Linked DNA regions of Homo sapiens: region 2 is linked to region 1. A link means that fine-mapping ties the variant in region 1 to the expression of a gene that starts in the linked region. Tissue or cell type: whole blood. Region 1 holds a variant in brackets; the other region holds the start of a gene. All regions are shown on one strand. Distances are between the middles of the regions.

What was found. PIP is the estimated chance that this variant, and not a neighbour inherited with it, causes the effect.
Region 2: it holds the start of LAPTM5, and the variant in region 1 is fine-mapped to the expression of LAPTM5 in whole blood (TOPMed, PIP above 0.99). The same link has a PIP of 0.9 or more in blood mononuclear cells.

The regions. Positions count from the first base shown.
Region 1 is chr1:30,728,765-30,736,305 of GRCh38, forward strand. It overlaps LAPTM5 (lysosomal protein transmembrane 5), which reads right to left. Exons shown (of 8, transcript NM_006762.3): 7 at 6,409-6,501; 8 at 3,705-5,153. The coding sequence ends at 5,064. Among named protein-coding and RNA genes, the nearest start is that of MIR4420, 6.7 kb to the right of the region's middle. RefSeq lists enhancers at 1,449-1,578, 1,729-1,838, 3,508-4,013, 4,014-4,519, 4,560-5,061. The variant C/T (reference allele first, on the strand shown) is at 3,784.
Region 2 is chr1:30,754,183-30,761,723 of GRCh38, forward strand. It overlaps LAPTM5 (lysosomal protein transmembrane 5), which reads right to left and starts at 3,592. Exons shown (of 8, transcript NM_006762.3): 1 at 3,477-3,592. The coding sequence starts at 3,563. RefSeq lists enhancers at 863-1,212, 1,684-1,733, 2,399-3,195, 3,324-3,603, 4,672-4,741.

The sequences.
Region 1 (7,541 bases):
AGCTGTTTTCCAGCCTCGCATGTCCTCCCAGCACATAGAGCAGAGGAAGCAGCAGGCGAGTGTTCTGTTCGACTATCTGGGCCACTGAGATGGCAGCAAAATTGTTTCCCAGGTGGATGTTGTTTATTTATTTAGAACTGTGGCTCCCTCGTGCCAGCAGCTCTCTGCTATGCCCACTGACCATCGGCGTGCTCTTGGTGGCTAATTAGGGAGACTTCTTCCTGGGACCCGGGAGACAGACTGGAATGTGAGCACTGGTTCCCAGAGAGCCCATCCGGGAGGGCAGCGGGCAAGGCCTGTGGCTGCAGAGACACACAGTGGCTGCTGCTTATACCCTCCGCAGAGGCCCTGCTGCCACCCAAAGACCCAAGGAGAACCCGAGGGTGGGTCCTGCCCCTGACTTCCTTTAACCTGACTGCTTTTCTTGACACTTAAACGGTTTCATTGCAAATTGGAGACACTGCCAGAGTACCGGATTGGACATGAATCTCTGGTCTTCCCAAAAGTCAGGCAGAGATGTGGAGGGGCCCACAGTCACAGGGCAGATTCCTCACCTGCAAAGTGGCCATGCTCATCGCCCCATCCAGGAGCCTGCAGTGCAGCTGGGCTGCTCCTCCTGCCCAGGCCCCATTCGGGCCACAGACCCCATGATCTGAGGTGTCACATGTGGTTCATGACACCTCCCATGTGCTATCTTGGTCTCAGGCCCCACGCATGGTCAGCCAAACTGGAATCCAGGGTGAGGAGGCGTGTGCTTTCATCTGCCGGCCTGTCTGGGGAGGCCACGGAGCAGCAGCACATCCTTCTGATGGGTTAACACCTGGGTGATACCAGCCCAACCTGATATCCCACCCACATGTCCAAAGATAGCACTCACATCTCAACCTGCCTCCCTCCTCGCTCTCCTAAACTCCAGACCTAGAGACCCAGCTGCTTCCTGAGCACCTCCCATTATATGTCCCCCAAGGAAGCGCAAATCTAGCCCCACCAAAACGCGATGCATCCTTTGCCATCCCCCGTTTCGCATCCTCTGCTCAGAGCTGGGCACCACCATCCGAGGGTCCGCAACATCCAAAAGCTCCCTGCTGCCTCTGAGGCCTCCTGCTTCTGCCAGGGCCCTCCCAAGAGGGCTCAGAGCCTGGAATAGGAATTAAATGAGGGCCTTGTGAGGTAGAAATTCCCAGAGGAAGGGCGAGGTTACCCAGAAAGGTCTAGAGAGACAAGCTCAGGTCCATTTGGGTGGACTGAAGTCCAAGCCCAGGTCTGCCCCTTGGCCAATGCGTGACTGTGGGCAGAGGCAGCCCCTCCCTGAACCTCAGGAATGATCACCACCCAGCACCTGCTGCGTGAGGCCACTGGGAGCTTTGTGGAGCCAGCACACTGAAGGGCCCACTCAATTACGGGGACCCTTCCTGCTACCATCACAGCTCCCGAGAAACCTGAAGTTGCCCCGCTTAGCACCCCAGGTTTAATTTTACCAGCTCTTTTTTCCCTCCAAGAGACAACCACTCCAGGCTGCCCTCACCTGCCCAGGCCTGGAAGCAGCCCCCTCTGTCCTGGGGCCGGCTCCTTTCCAGGCATGAAGCTCAAACAGGCGCTGTCAGTGGGTCCAAACCATCGCAGCCCCGTCAAAGGACCCCTGTGTGAGCCTCAAACGGGGCATTGATAGGGCCTCAGTGAGGGCTGCCCAGGCGATCGTGGGCTCGCTTGGCTTGGCTAGCCATGCGGACTTCCCCAAACCCAGCTATTTCCTGTCCCTCGGGTGGCCCCCTCCCAGCTGCCTGGCCACAGGGCACAATCCCACTACACAGCTCAGCCTGTTCTTCGGCTCCAGGCCAGAGGTGGGAGTCGGGGAAGGCGGGAAGGACGGGAGAGTCGCGCCGGGAAGTTCAGGGCCTCCTGGTCCTTGTGACACACGCAGCCATGGCCCTTCAATCTCCTTGTGATAGGATGCAAGGCTGGGCCAATGTCTCTCCTCCCGTGACCTCTGCTCCCAATCCACACTTGCCGGGGCTTCTCAGCGGGCCCTCTTCCCATGGGTCTTTGCAAGAAGCAACAACTGACACAGACTGGGCCCCAGCCCGTCTAAAAGCCTCCACTCGGAGTAGAAAAAAAAGGTGCTTGGTCTCATCTCTGACCACTGTGTGGCCTCAGGAAAGTCACTTGATGTCTCTGGGCCTCTGCCCTCAAGTGTGAACAGGAGCTCGCTTTCCATTTCTGTGAATTACACTGCACCAACTGCTTGGGGGTCTGATAAGGAGCAAATAACATCCATGAAGAAATCTGCCATTCCACAAAAAAACTGACACCACCAGAAGGTTGACAATGCCTCTCAAACTCATCCCCGTCCCTGCCGCCCCATAGGATGACTTCCCCAGCCTTTGTAGGGGTCCCTGCATTTGGGCTCTTCCTTCCTAAAACCCAAACCTTGTAACTCCTTGGCCCAAAATCCTTCAAAGACACCTGTCTCAGGATTAGTCCATGTTCCTCGGTGTGACATTCAAGGCTCTGAGGGCTCTTTTGGTATTGGTGACAGATCCCAATTCAAACAGCCCTGGTCTCTTTATTAACTTTACTTTCAGGTAAGTCCTCAACAGCTCAGCCACACCGGGGAGAAAAGATAAGAGATGGAGAAACAGAGAGACATTATTAAAGAGTTGTAGTCCTGGATCCTGCCATACCTGAAGCCAAAAATCCCTGGATTTTTTATTTGTATGAGAGCCAAGAAACATCGTGAACCACCTTCTGGTTTCTCATAATAAACTTGGCTCATAAGGCTTCTGTTACTTGCAACCATGTCCTTCCTGTAAATTCCCTTCTTGGCTGAACTTAGCCAGGGTGAGCTTGCACCTAAAGAGCCCCACTGTGTGCAAACACTCTTCCTGACCCAGCCCCACAGCGGGCCGACCTCTTCTCCCTCCCCTCCCCACTTGCAGCCACGCTGAGCAGCTCGCCCCAGCTCCTCTCCCCAATGCCATAGAGTCTTTGCGTGTCCTGCTACCTAGACCTAGAGCACCCTTCCCATTCTGCTTACTGCTGCCTTCTCATCCTTCAGACTCCACTTGGTGACAGCCTCCAAGAGGCTTTCTCTGGCCCTCAGGCCACGTCTGAGGTCCCCTAGGCTTTCCCTATCGTGGCAGCCCTTTTGCAGATCTGTCCCTCCTACCGCAGACTGGGGGGAACTGGAGGCGAGTCTCATCTGTTGAGGTCTTCCCCAGTGTCCAGAGCAGGACCCAGCCCCAGGGGAGTGGAGTGCACGCCTGATTAGGGAGACATCAGGGTGCATCATCTTGGGCTGTGGTTCATGATCAGACAGCATTGGGTCAGGACCACCCCTCGCTCAGCATGGCCCATGGGAGGAGTTTCTGGATGGAGCAACTAGGTATGTGTGAGTGTTTACATGGGTGTGTGGGGGTGGGCGTGTGTGGAGGGGTGTGGGGGGTGTGAGTGTGTGGGTATATGGGGGGTGTGTGGGTGTGTAGGCGGTGGGAGTGAGTGTGTGGAGGGGTGTGGGGAGGGTGTGAGTGTGTGGGTATGTGGGGGGAGTGTGGGTGTTTGGGTGTATTTGTGGGTGTGTGGGGGTGGGTGTGAGTGTGTGGAGGGGTGTGGGTGTAGGGGGTGTGGGTGAGTCCTGGGGTGATGGAGGTAGAAGGCTGGTCTCCACCCTCCCTACACTGTATTTCCAGAAACACATCAGCCAGACAGAAGCTTGTTGCTGCTTTATTGAAACTTCCTCCCTGTCGCACACAAAGCAATTACACAAGGGGGTATTGCCAGGGAGCT[C/T]TTGCAGAGCCTTCTCCCTCTGTACCCCCCGACAGTCCCCAGAGACCCTGCCTCCGTGGCCTCCACCTCTGGGTCAGCTCCCTGGAGGACCCCGACACACAGGGAAGCAGGCACAGGAGGGCTGTTGGGGCCAAACCTCCCCAGCTGCCACAACCGCCATGACCCCAGTGGCAGGGTCAGTGCCCACAAGGGGGTTGCCTGCTTTGACTGAACTAACCTGTGGGTTTAGTCCAACGAACAGATGTGCCTGATTTCAGGGCTGAATTTTTGCTTGACCACAAGCCTCGGGCAGAACAGATTCGCCTATGACTGAATCGACTGAATGGATGGCCAGCGACAGCCTGGCCTGGGAATGGACTGGCAGCTCATCACTAAAATGACTCCTTTCATGGAATCCACTGTTATGCAGCCACACTGACCACAGAGCAACTGAATAGGTGAGCATTGGATTGTTGATGACAACTCTTCAGCAGAACAATTGTGTGTTTGAAGGGACTGTTTTATGATGAAATAACTGTTATTTCCTGGAGCTAATTGTTGAATGACAGTTTGTCAACTGTTTAAATGAATTTCATTTGAATTAACAATTATACAGCCACTCAGAGGTCCTACATTCGCCAGAGTTGGCATCCAGTTGATGGGTTCATTTGAATTAAATGGTTTGGAGGCTAACGTGATTTTTTAAATTGAATTTCATCACTATTCTGTGTATTCTATTTATCACTATTCTAAATGACTCATGGTTGGCTAATTGATTATCATGTAAGCAAGCTATTTGAAGAAATTGATTACATATATTTATATATAGGGGGTAACTAATTAATGATTACTTGATTAAATTGCTATGTGAACTGACAACTATTTATAAATCAATGCAATAGACTGTTGTTTGACCAAATTATTTTACTGAACTGACAAGTGGGTTTTTGATTTGTCAGTTGCTTGGCTGAACTGATCAAGTCGATAGTTGCTTGACAAACTCACCAACTTTAGAATGGCCAATCGTCTAAACAAGTGTCAGAGCTGATTGAAATAAACCAAGCATTGTTGGGCTGAATTATGGAGAGACCCGAGGAGTGACTCAGCCTAAAGCGTTGACCCAGTTGTGAGCAGCTCACAGGCCCTGCAGGAGGAGCAGGCCAGCGAGGGAGACACAAGCAGATTGTCCTGCCAGGGAGGGGCGGGAGGGCCCACCCAGGCCACAGGGGCCACCAAAGCAAAAAAGCAGATTATGAGGCAGCTCCACCCCTCCCAGCACTGGGGCTGGGGCCTGGCGAGGGTCACACCTCTGAGTATGGGGGTGGTGCTGGGCCCCCCTCTGGGGTCTTCGATGGCAAAGACAGGGCTTCCTCGTAGGACGGCAGGACCACCTGGGAGAGACAGAGAGATGAGGGCTGAGTATGGTCAAGAATGACCTGCAATTCCAACCTGGGGTCATGGGACCCAAACCCCCACCTCTGGCAAAATGATGATGATAATGACTGGCAGGTCTTGGATATTTGCTATGTGCTAGACATTGCCTGCATGAGATAGGTGCAGTTCCCAGCCCTGTAGTGGACATATTTGCCTTTGCCTATTCAGCATCAAGTCCCCCTTATTTTGAAAACAGTGCACCATTTTCCTTGGGAAAACATTCTCAGTCCATATACCTTCAGAAGAACTGGTCCCATCCCTCAGATCCAGCGAGGTGGCTGGACTTGGCCACTCAAAGTAGAATTCCATCCCCCTGGCTATAGTCCTTGGTTTGGGGATAGGCACGTGGCCCAAGTTGGTCCAATCAGACATACTCCTGGGACCTTCTTTTTCTGTTGGGATTTCTGAGAGGGTGGGATATCTGCCTAGGGGTTTTGGCAGCCTTTTTGCCACCACAAGGGATGGGCTTCCGGAAAATGAAGCCAACATCAAGGAAAGTAGAGTCAAGAGTTGGAGAGGACGAGATCATATCCTGATGTCAGGACTCAGCCAGGCCCAAGCCAGACCTACATTTGGCTGCTAAGTTCTGTGAGCTAGTAAATTCCTGAAGTCAGATTGAGTTGGGTTTCTGCCACTTGCAACCAAAAGTGTCTTAGCTAATACAATCTCCACCTTACAGGTGAGGAAAGTAAGTTACCAGGAATTTAAACCGTCACTTTCCAATAAGCTGCTTCTAAGCACACCTCATCCTCTCTTCCCGGAAAGCCTCCTTCTGCTTTCCCAGCTATCTCATATCCATTGACCCTCCAAGACCAGTTAACTGTCACCTCCTCCAGGAAGGCTTCCCTGATACCTGAGAAGAGGCCAGGTCCTTCCTCTGTGCTTATTGTCCCTGTGCTTCACACCAAGTTGTAATTGTATCTATGTGTCTGAACTGTACACTCCTCTAAGGCAGAGGTGGCATCTTAGTTTTCTCTGCGCCTCCTGGAATCGATATGAGACTAGCAAAGAGTGAGAGGCAGTAAATACTGAATAAATGAATGAGTGAGTGAATGAATCTTAGACTACCAGAACTGAAAGAGAACACATTTCTTCTGTTCCAACCCTCATCTTACAAATAGAGAAACCAAGGTCCAGAGAGGGAAGGAAACTTGACCCAAATGGCACAGGGAGTTAGTGACAGGGCTGGCACCCACCTGCAGCCACACTCACCTTCTGGAGCATCTTGGAGTTTCTCTTCTCCTCCACCGAGTTCATGCACTTGATCAATCTGTAGCACCGCCACACGCACTTGAACATGTAGACCTGGAAAAAGGCCCAGGTCAGGCTGTGCTTTGCTGAGCGTCCTTCTCACGCTCCAGCAGGCCTAGGACATATGCCAGGCAGGAGCCACCACTCTCTCCAGAAGCCAGCATCCAGCTGCTCCTGCTCGGACCTCTCATTCTGGTTGGGGGTTCCTCACCAGCCAGTCCAGAATATTCCAGGTATTGCCCTTTTCATTGCCCCACAGATACCACATAGCAAGGGGATTTGGGGGGCTTCTAGCCCACCCTCCAATTTCCCTGGCAATAGTCCCACAGCTCCTGCTTGACTGCCCACACTGCCTGGAAGCTCACTACCTCCTGAGACAGCCCTGCCCATCTCGAAACAGAGCTGATGGTGGGACATGTTTTCTTCAAAATTGCTTCCGATATGTTGTTTTCTGAAGCAGATTACAAAACAGCATGTGCAGTATTGGTCCATGTTTATAAAGGAGGAACAGTTAGTACATGTCCATCAGCTGATGCAAGTTAATGTAAGAATTGGGCAGAAGCTTTCCAGAGTGGGGCATACAATCCCAAGGGGCAAGCTCAAGAAACAACAGAAAACCCCCAGGATGCCCCCTGAGTAAGAGGAGAGGGTCCTGTACTGGAAGGTCTTGTTTGATGGATTCCCTGATGGGCACATAGGTGGGGCAAGGAGACATATGGAGGTACGGAGTGACAAAGAATGAAGCATGAAGGCCCAGGGAAAATCAAGTCGGTGGAGGGGGCCAGAGAGGCAGAATGAGGGTCAAAGAGGGAAGCCCCTCATTCTGGAGGATAAAAAACAGAAGGGGAGCTGGGGGACGGAGCTGTGTGCTGGGGTCTGCGGAGGGGTCCTGCAGTAGAGAGTGCCATGGAAAGCCCACACTGGCTTCCCCCATGAGGCCTTCAGGGGTGTTCTCACTGTACACTCACTAGTGCGTTTGTGCTAGGTCAGTCCTTGGAGAAGATGCTAAAAGGGGCAAGGTTCTGTTTCTAGGTTGGCATTAGGTGACAGCAGAGACTGCCCAGGGCCTCAGATGGAAGCAGGAGCTGGGGTCT
Region 2 (7,541 bases), 25 kb after region 1:
ACTTAGAACGTGCTTCAGGTTGACAAAAAGCCAGGACCCAAGAGACCCAATTTAAGAAATTTCTCTAGACTGGGCTCGGTGGCTCATGCCTGTAATCCCAGCGCGTTGGGAGGCCAAGGCAGGAGAATCACTTGAGGCCAAGGGTTTGAGACCAGCCTGGGCAACATAGTGGGACCCTGTCTCTACAAAAAAAAATATTTAAAATTAGCTGGCCATGGTGGCATGCGCCTGTGATCCTAGCTACTCAGGAAGCTGAGGTGGGAGGATCTCTTGAACCCAGGAGTTCAAGGCTGCAGTGAGCTGTGATGGCACCACTGCATTCCAGCCTGGGTGACAGAGCAAGACCCCATCTCTTAAAAACAAAAACAAAACAAAACAAATCAAACCACAAAAGATGGGCAAGTTACTGAACTTTGAAAAAAAGAATAGATTTTTTAAAAAAAGAAAGAAAGTTTGCTGGGTTCCCAAAGTGTGCAAGTTTGGGTGACCCAGAGAATCCTCTACACAAACCCACTGACATCCTGAGGAAGATGCCCGAGCCCAAAGCTACGGACCAGGCTTCCCTCATGTAATAACGCCCTCATGACTCAATAGAGCGTGGCACTGTCTCAGGATGGCAAGGTCTCAATTTAACCCTCCCTAGAGGGGCCAAGTCCACAAATAGCTCATGATGTGCAGAGTCGTCACCCATGGCTGGGTCCAGATGACAGCCAGCATGGGCTATTGACACATCTGGACCACAGCTTCTCTTTTTCCATCCAGATGCTCAAGGTCCTATCAGCACACCTGTTGCCAGCTAGCCTATGGGAAAGCCCCCAGGCCCTGCCCTTTCTGGGAAGGAGAGAGGACTCTTTCGGGGTGCAGGAAGATAACCCCCCACTGGAGTCAACTGAGGACCACAGCCTGGAGACAACCTGGGCCGAGCGCACAGCTTCCAGGACACCCCTCTGCTCTTTTGCTTGCTCCTGCTCTAGAACGTCTCATCACTCATAGGCATTGGTTCTCAACTGGGAGAGATTGGGCCCCATAACTAGAGACATTTTTGGTTATCACAAGTGGCAGGGTAGGGAGATGGGCAGTGCTGCTAGTATCTAGTAGGTAGAGACCATGGATGCTGCTGAACTTCCTCTAACGCACAATTCACTCCCCCAAGATGAAGAATTATCCAGCCCAAAATATCAATGGTGCACTGCAGAGAAGATCCAACTTCTTAGCTTGTCACTCAAAACCTTTATCACCTCCTCCCCAAACTCCAGGTTTGTCTCTATTGTGTCCCTGTAGAAGCCGAACACATACGCCATTGCTCACCTGTTTCTCCTCACCTTCCATACTGCCCACAACCAAACTCTCCCTCCTGCCAATGGCACCACCTCCAAGAAGTCTTCCATGATTGCTAGGGCCCACACATTCTTCAGCTCTGTGAGCAGGGACCGTATATCACACCACCATTTACAGGTGAGGACATCGGATGGCACGATCAACAAGAAACCTTAACAGCCCCACAGTCCCGGGTTTGCAGGGCAGCCTCTGGGCCCACACAACCTGCAAATGGATTTGACTTGGCCTGCACTGAGATTTTTTTCTACCATGCATCAATCACTAGCATTGAAACATCAGAAGATGTGACACAAAAGCCTGCTCCCTATTCTCTAAACATCAGAAGAGCGGCCACCAGGGCCCACAATCCTTCGTGGCAACAACAAGCAAAAACAGAGAACAGCTGCAGGGTGGGCCAAGCAAGGGCTCCCGGGGTCACCGCAGGCCCCATCTGCCCCCTGCTGTCACTCACATGGCCTGCCCAGACCCTAGAGGCATCAGAGTTGGAGACCTCTGAGCCAGTCAACATCACCTTACCCCTGACTTTATAAAAGGGAAACTGAGGCCCAGAGAGAGGCTTGTCTGAGCCCATACAGCCAGTTAGTGGCAGGGCTGGGGTGAGGACCCAGGGACTTGCTACCTGTGAGGCGCCCCTGCATGCCACACTGTCCTTCTAAGAATGTGCATAGTCTCAGAGCTTGAAGGCCTAAAATACAGGGTACAGGGACACTCAAAGAGTGATTTGCTTCTCTCAGCTCTTGCATTGGCAGGAGCTCGGAAGGACAACCTCTGAGTTCCTCCTCCCAAAACTAGAGTCCTTGAATCTGACAACTTGACTCCAAGGATGCTGACAGCAGGTGCCATGTCTGATGCACAACGAATAATAAAGCACTCACCTGTGCGTCAGGCGTGGTTCTGCATGCTTTGTATGTATCAACTCCCTGAGCCTCACAACAAACCCTATCAGATGGGTATGATAATTCACATCCCCATTTTTTTAAATGAGAAAACTGAGGCTCAGAGAGGTTAAGTAAATTGCCCAAGGCTGCAGAGCTGGGAAGCAGGGAAGCCAGGATTTGCATGCAGGAGTCTGCATCCAGAGGCCGTGGGCTAACCACTGAACAGCATCGCCCCCCTGAAGGCTGGGCTCTTGCCACAGCTCTGCCTGCCCTGCCTGTGACAGGAAGCAGACGCAGGCAGGTCTGAGTTTGCAGCAACCCACCGCAGCATGTGGATCTAGGCTAATTTTGAGGAAGCCCTTCCAGACTCATGAGAAAACTGTTAACCACAGGCCCTGAGTCACCCCAGGAGGAAGTCGCTTGGGTCTAGGGGAGATGAGTGTGGCCAGGAGTTTGGGAGTAGGGTGGGTCTAGGCAGGACAGTACAAGGACACTGACCCTCAGCCACCCCAGGCAGAGGGGCAGCCTTGGCCCCCGGGCACTGTGACTTGCCCAAGACCACACTGTGAGTCACCAGGAAAGGAGGAACCAGTGACAGCCGTGACTTCACAAGTTGCCCAACAAGAGCTTGGGCCGGACAAGTTACCCTAATGATTAGCACAGGTCTCAAGTTCTCTTTGGTGGGCAGAAGGCCGTGGTTTGACTGAGCTGGAAGCTGAGAGGACACGGCCCCTGCCTCCCCACTGGAGGCACAAAGGGGAGATCCCCACTTCTCATCCCCTCGAGTGGCCCAGGCTCCCTCCAGGCCCCAGGGGAAGAATCGGGGCTGTGTCTGCGGCCGACCTCACATCCCGGTCAAACAATCCCAGCCCACGTTCCTCCCAAGATCCCTGCCTTCCAAAGCACTTTCACATCTGCTGTTGGCTTTGCACACAAATAACCTTCCGGCTGCTGCTGTGCCCCATCTCACAGAGGCAGAAACGGAGCCAGCCTCGGAGTGAACGTCAGTTACATTTGCCTGGAAAGTGGATTCCAGCTCCCTTACTCCTCACTCTTGCGGCATCTCCCCAGGGTACCCCCAGCCATTTGACAGAGAAGGAAACTGAGGCCCAGAGCAGGACAGGGATTTGCCCAGGGTCCCCCAGAGAGGTGGAGAGCAGGAGTTCTTTCATTTGTGGGGCTCCGTAGATGACGGGTCACCGCAGACATTCACACTCACACAAGCACGCACGCACACACACCCGGGGCCCGCACACTCACCACATGGTAGATGGCCAGGGCGGTGGTTGCGATGCGGACATTGAAGCAGCAGCAGGTCTGGCGGACAGTGGACAAGCGGGGGTCCATGGTGCTGCCGTCCCCTCCTCTGAGACACTGAAGGGGAAAGAGCCTGGTGCCTGGAGCAGGGCAGAGAAGGGGAAGCTGCTGGCTGCCCTCCTCACTTCCTTCCTGCCCCTTAGACAGGCAGGGACAAGGTCGTCACAGCTGGGGCGGGGCAGCTGGGGAGGGGGAGTGGGGACAGGGCAGCAGCCTGCCTCAGAGCACCCCACTGCCCTCTGCCATTCCCAGGAGGGGGTTCCAGAGAGGACAGACCCTAACACGGTCATCATGCCCTTCTCTGCACCAGGGCCAGGGTTCCACCGTTTCACACAGCTTGCTTACTAGAAGAACACTACCAACTTTGGAAGCCAGGACTGTTACCAAGCCCATTTCCAGATGAGGAAACAGCTGTCCAGAGAGGTCAAGGCACTTGCCCCAAATCACACAGTAGTTAGCACTGGTGGCAGAATTCAAACCCAGATCTGTCTGGCTGCAAAAATAGCTATTGTCTAGGAGGCATTTCCTGCCTCTTCCAGGCATGCTCCTGGATTCACTCCTTTCATCCTCACCTCAATCCTTTGAGAGAGGTACTATTATGATCCCCATTTTACAGATGAAGAAACTGAGGCACAGAGAGGGGGAATGATTCGTGCAAGGTCACACAGCTAGTCAATGAAGGTGCAAGGATTTTAACTGAGGCTGACTGGTGCTAGAAGCCTCCCTGGAGCTGGTGTTCTCTCCCACTTCCTCACCCTGAGCCGCAGGGAGAAGCTTGTTCTTCCTAAGCTACGAAGAGGCGTGCAGGGCTCCAGACAAGGACGGAAGAATAACCAGGAAGCAAACCCATCAACTGTGCGCCAGGCCCTGGGCTAGGCTTCTCTTCTAGGTGGGTCAATAACTCTTCACAGCAATCTGTGAGACCCGAACCTCACTTTCAGGGCCTCAAGACCCAATCCCCATACTCACACAAAATCAGGGATTGCTTTTCCCCCTTGATCTTGCAAAAAGTTGGAATTAATAAGCCACAACTCTTAGGCAAGCTACCCTGGAATCTCTACTCCCTCCTCAGATGATAAATTATCCATATTGCAATAAAGAAAGGGAATAGGAAGTACATGCAACATTTCTGGAAGAAGCCCTGCTTCATTCCACAGCTGAGCCCCTTTGCAATGCCAAGCTTCTAGTGCAGAGCAGACAGGAACTGCCATGAAGCCCTGCCCTCCCAGGAGATCATGGAGTTAGGATTGGACACTGCTGCAGCCCATCATTTCTGCCCCAGGAGAGGTTATAGAAAGTCCCTAAGCTCCTCCCACTTGGCAGGAGTTGCTCTGTTAGACCCACAAAACTTGATTGGTGGACTTGATCAATCCATTCTCCATGTGCCAATGAGACCAAGGGGACTCTGCAAGCTTTGGGCTCCTGGGAGGCCTGGCCTATCCCTTCCCAACTTCATTTTCAAGGCTGTTCCTGTTCCTTCATAAGCCTTGCTGAGGCCTGACATCATAGAAAGGTGACACAGTGCAGTGGTTAAGAACTTTGGCTCCACAGGCCCATGGCCTGGGATCTTCTGGCTGGGTAGGCAGAAAACCAAGAGAAGTCCTCCTTTGTCTAAGAGTAGCAAGACCAGAGGAACTGGAGATCAGGAAACCAGGGGCCAGGAGGGCCCTGAGGCCATGCTGGGGAGTCTGCATTTGATTGTGCACAGAAGCCATTTGACGATTTCCTACCATAATAAATGATAGCCATTCATAACATTGTGATTTGGTGAAACCAGGACAGGTGCAAAGCCAACTCCCAAAGAGAGGGATGAAACACACTGACAGCATGTGGAATAATTGTACATGGTCTATGGGTAAACATTTCTCATTTTTTATGGTGATAAATTCATTTTAATGTGCATTATAAAAATATACATAACTAGTCCATGAATCCTGTGATTTTCCATTTATAGGAGTAATATAAAGTCTCATTTTAAAAGAAATGCATTTAAATAAAAAAGGCAGTAAGTCAATTTAAAGAACATATTAAGGAAGCCACAGCCTAGGAGGACGCAGATGTGGCAGACAGCCCTGGAGGTGGAGTAGGTGGCATCCGTTTGGGAATCCTGGGGCATGGGGAATCCCAGCTCCCCACTTAGTAGCTGTGTGGTGTCAGACAAGGCACTTGATCTCTCTGAGCTGTTGTTTTCACCTCTGCAAAACGGCGGGGCGGTTGGGGGGAACAGAAATTTGCCTGGCAGGGCTGCGGTGAAGGTGAAATGAGGTCACGTGAATGCATCTGTTTGTTTTCTCCCTTCCAGCCCGTCCCTGCTCCCCGATCTCACCCGTACTCAGGCTGCTAGGAGGAGGCAGAGCTGGGATTGAACCCCTGATCTGTCTGATTCTGAGTCCCCTCGGGCACTACCTCCCTCGCAGAAGCAGGAGTTCTGATGCAGTCATTTGTCTCTCACCGGGTCACCAGGCTCCAGCACACACTGGCCCCTTGGCAGGCACCTCAGTCACTCCCTGTGGAGTACAAGCCTGAATCACTTTATTGTCATTCCCAACAAACCCCCTGTGGAGAGGACGGCTATTATCCCAAAGGTCAGACCCTTTGGCCAAAGCCACTGTGATAGGCAGAATAGTGCCTCTCACCCCCCAAAAAAAATCCACCCTAATCTCTGGAACCTGTGCGTACATGGCCTTACATGGCAAAGAAACTTCACAGGCGCCATGAAATTCAGGATCTTGAGGTGGGTGGGGAGATTATCCTGCATTATCTGGATGGCCCTGAGGTCATCAAATGGGTCCCCATAAGTGAAGGAAGATCAGAGTCAGAGAGGGAGTGGAAGATGCCACACTCCTGGCTCTGCAGTTGGAGGAAGAACCATGAGCCAAGGAGTGCAGGCGGCATCCAGAAACTGGAAAAGGCAAGGAAATGGCTTCTCCTCTAGAGGCTCGAAAGGGAATCACTTTCATTTTAGCTCAGCGAGGCGCATTCCTGACTTCTGGCCTCCAGAACTGTAAGACAATAAATGTCTGTTGTAGTCACTGTGTTTCTGGTCTTTTATTATAGCGGCCGCAGGGAACAAATACAGCTGCTCAGTGGAAGCAACAGCTGAGCCTGGGGCCCCGTCGCTGGAGCCCAACACACTCCACCGAGACCACAGTCCCCATCTGCACAAGTGCAGCCCTTACTTCCTTGCTGTGTGACCCCAGCCAAGTCGTGAACTTCCCTGAGCCTCCGCTTCCTCCTGCGCCAAGCGGGGATAATGATAATGCCCATCTCGTTGTCTGTACATGCAGGTGGCAACACCACATAAGCTCACTATTTATATTCTGCTGTTTTCCGTTACGAATGATAAGTTTTGAGCTTCTTCAAGTTGCTTTTCATACCTTCTTTGTGGAGTGGTAGAACCCTTGAAAACTTCAGACCCTCTGAATTCATCAAGATAAGGACAAGGAAATGTTCCATGCCACCGCAGCCACGGCAGAGCAGATACAAATCTGCTTGTCAAACTGCCCTTGTCAATGTTATTTCTGACAAAGGAATCTTCTAAGACCCCCTGACTTCAGACATGGTTCCCAGATCCTAGAGAGTCATCTTTAATCCTGAAAAGGTCTGTAATTCTGGCTGGTTATCTGGCTTAATAATTTGCTGCCATGGTATATGAATATTTAAACAGACAGCTCTGTTTCCTCAAAGGCAGAATTAGTTGTAAGCTTTCTTTGTTAAGTCAGAAGAACATCACTGGAACTTCCCTCTTCACCCATAGGCCTGGAGGTAAAAATAAAACCCACGACTCTGCCAGCTTTTGTATTTAAACAAAGAGTTTGGGAGTCTTGTGTCCTTTCCATTAACCTAGATGAAGCACTTAGAAGGGGCTGGGTCACGGTAAGGACTGCACAGTGGGAAGCATTTTGATCACGATTGTCACTATGATTCTTCCTGTCCTTTAAACCCTTTCTCAGCTGAGCCTCCCCCAGCCCTAGCCAGCAGAGGAAGGCAGCAGAGAGGCACTGATCA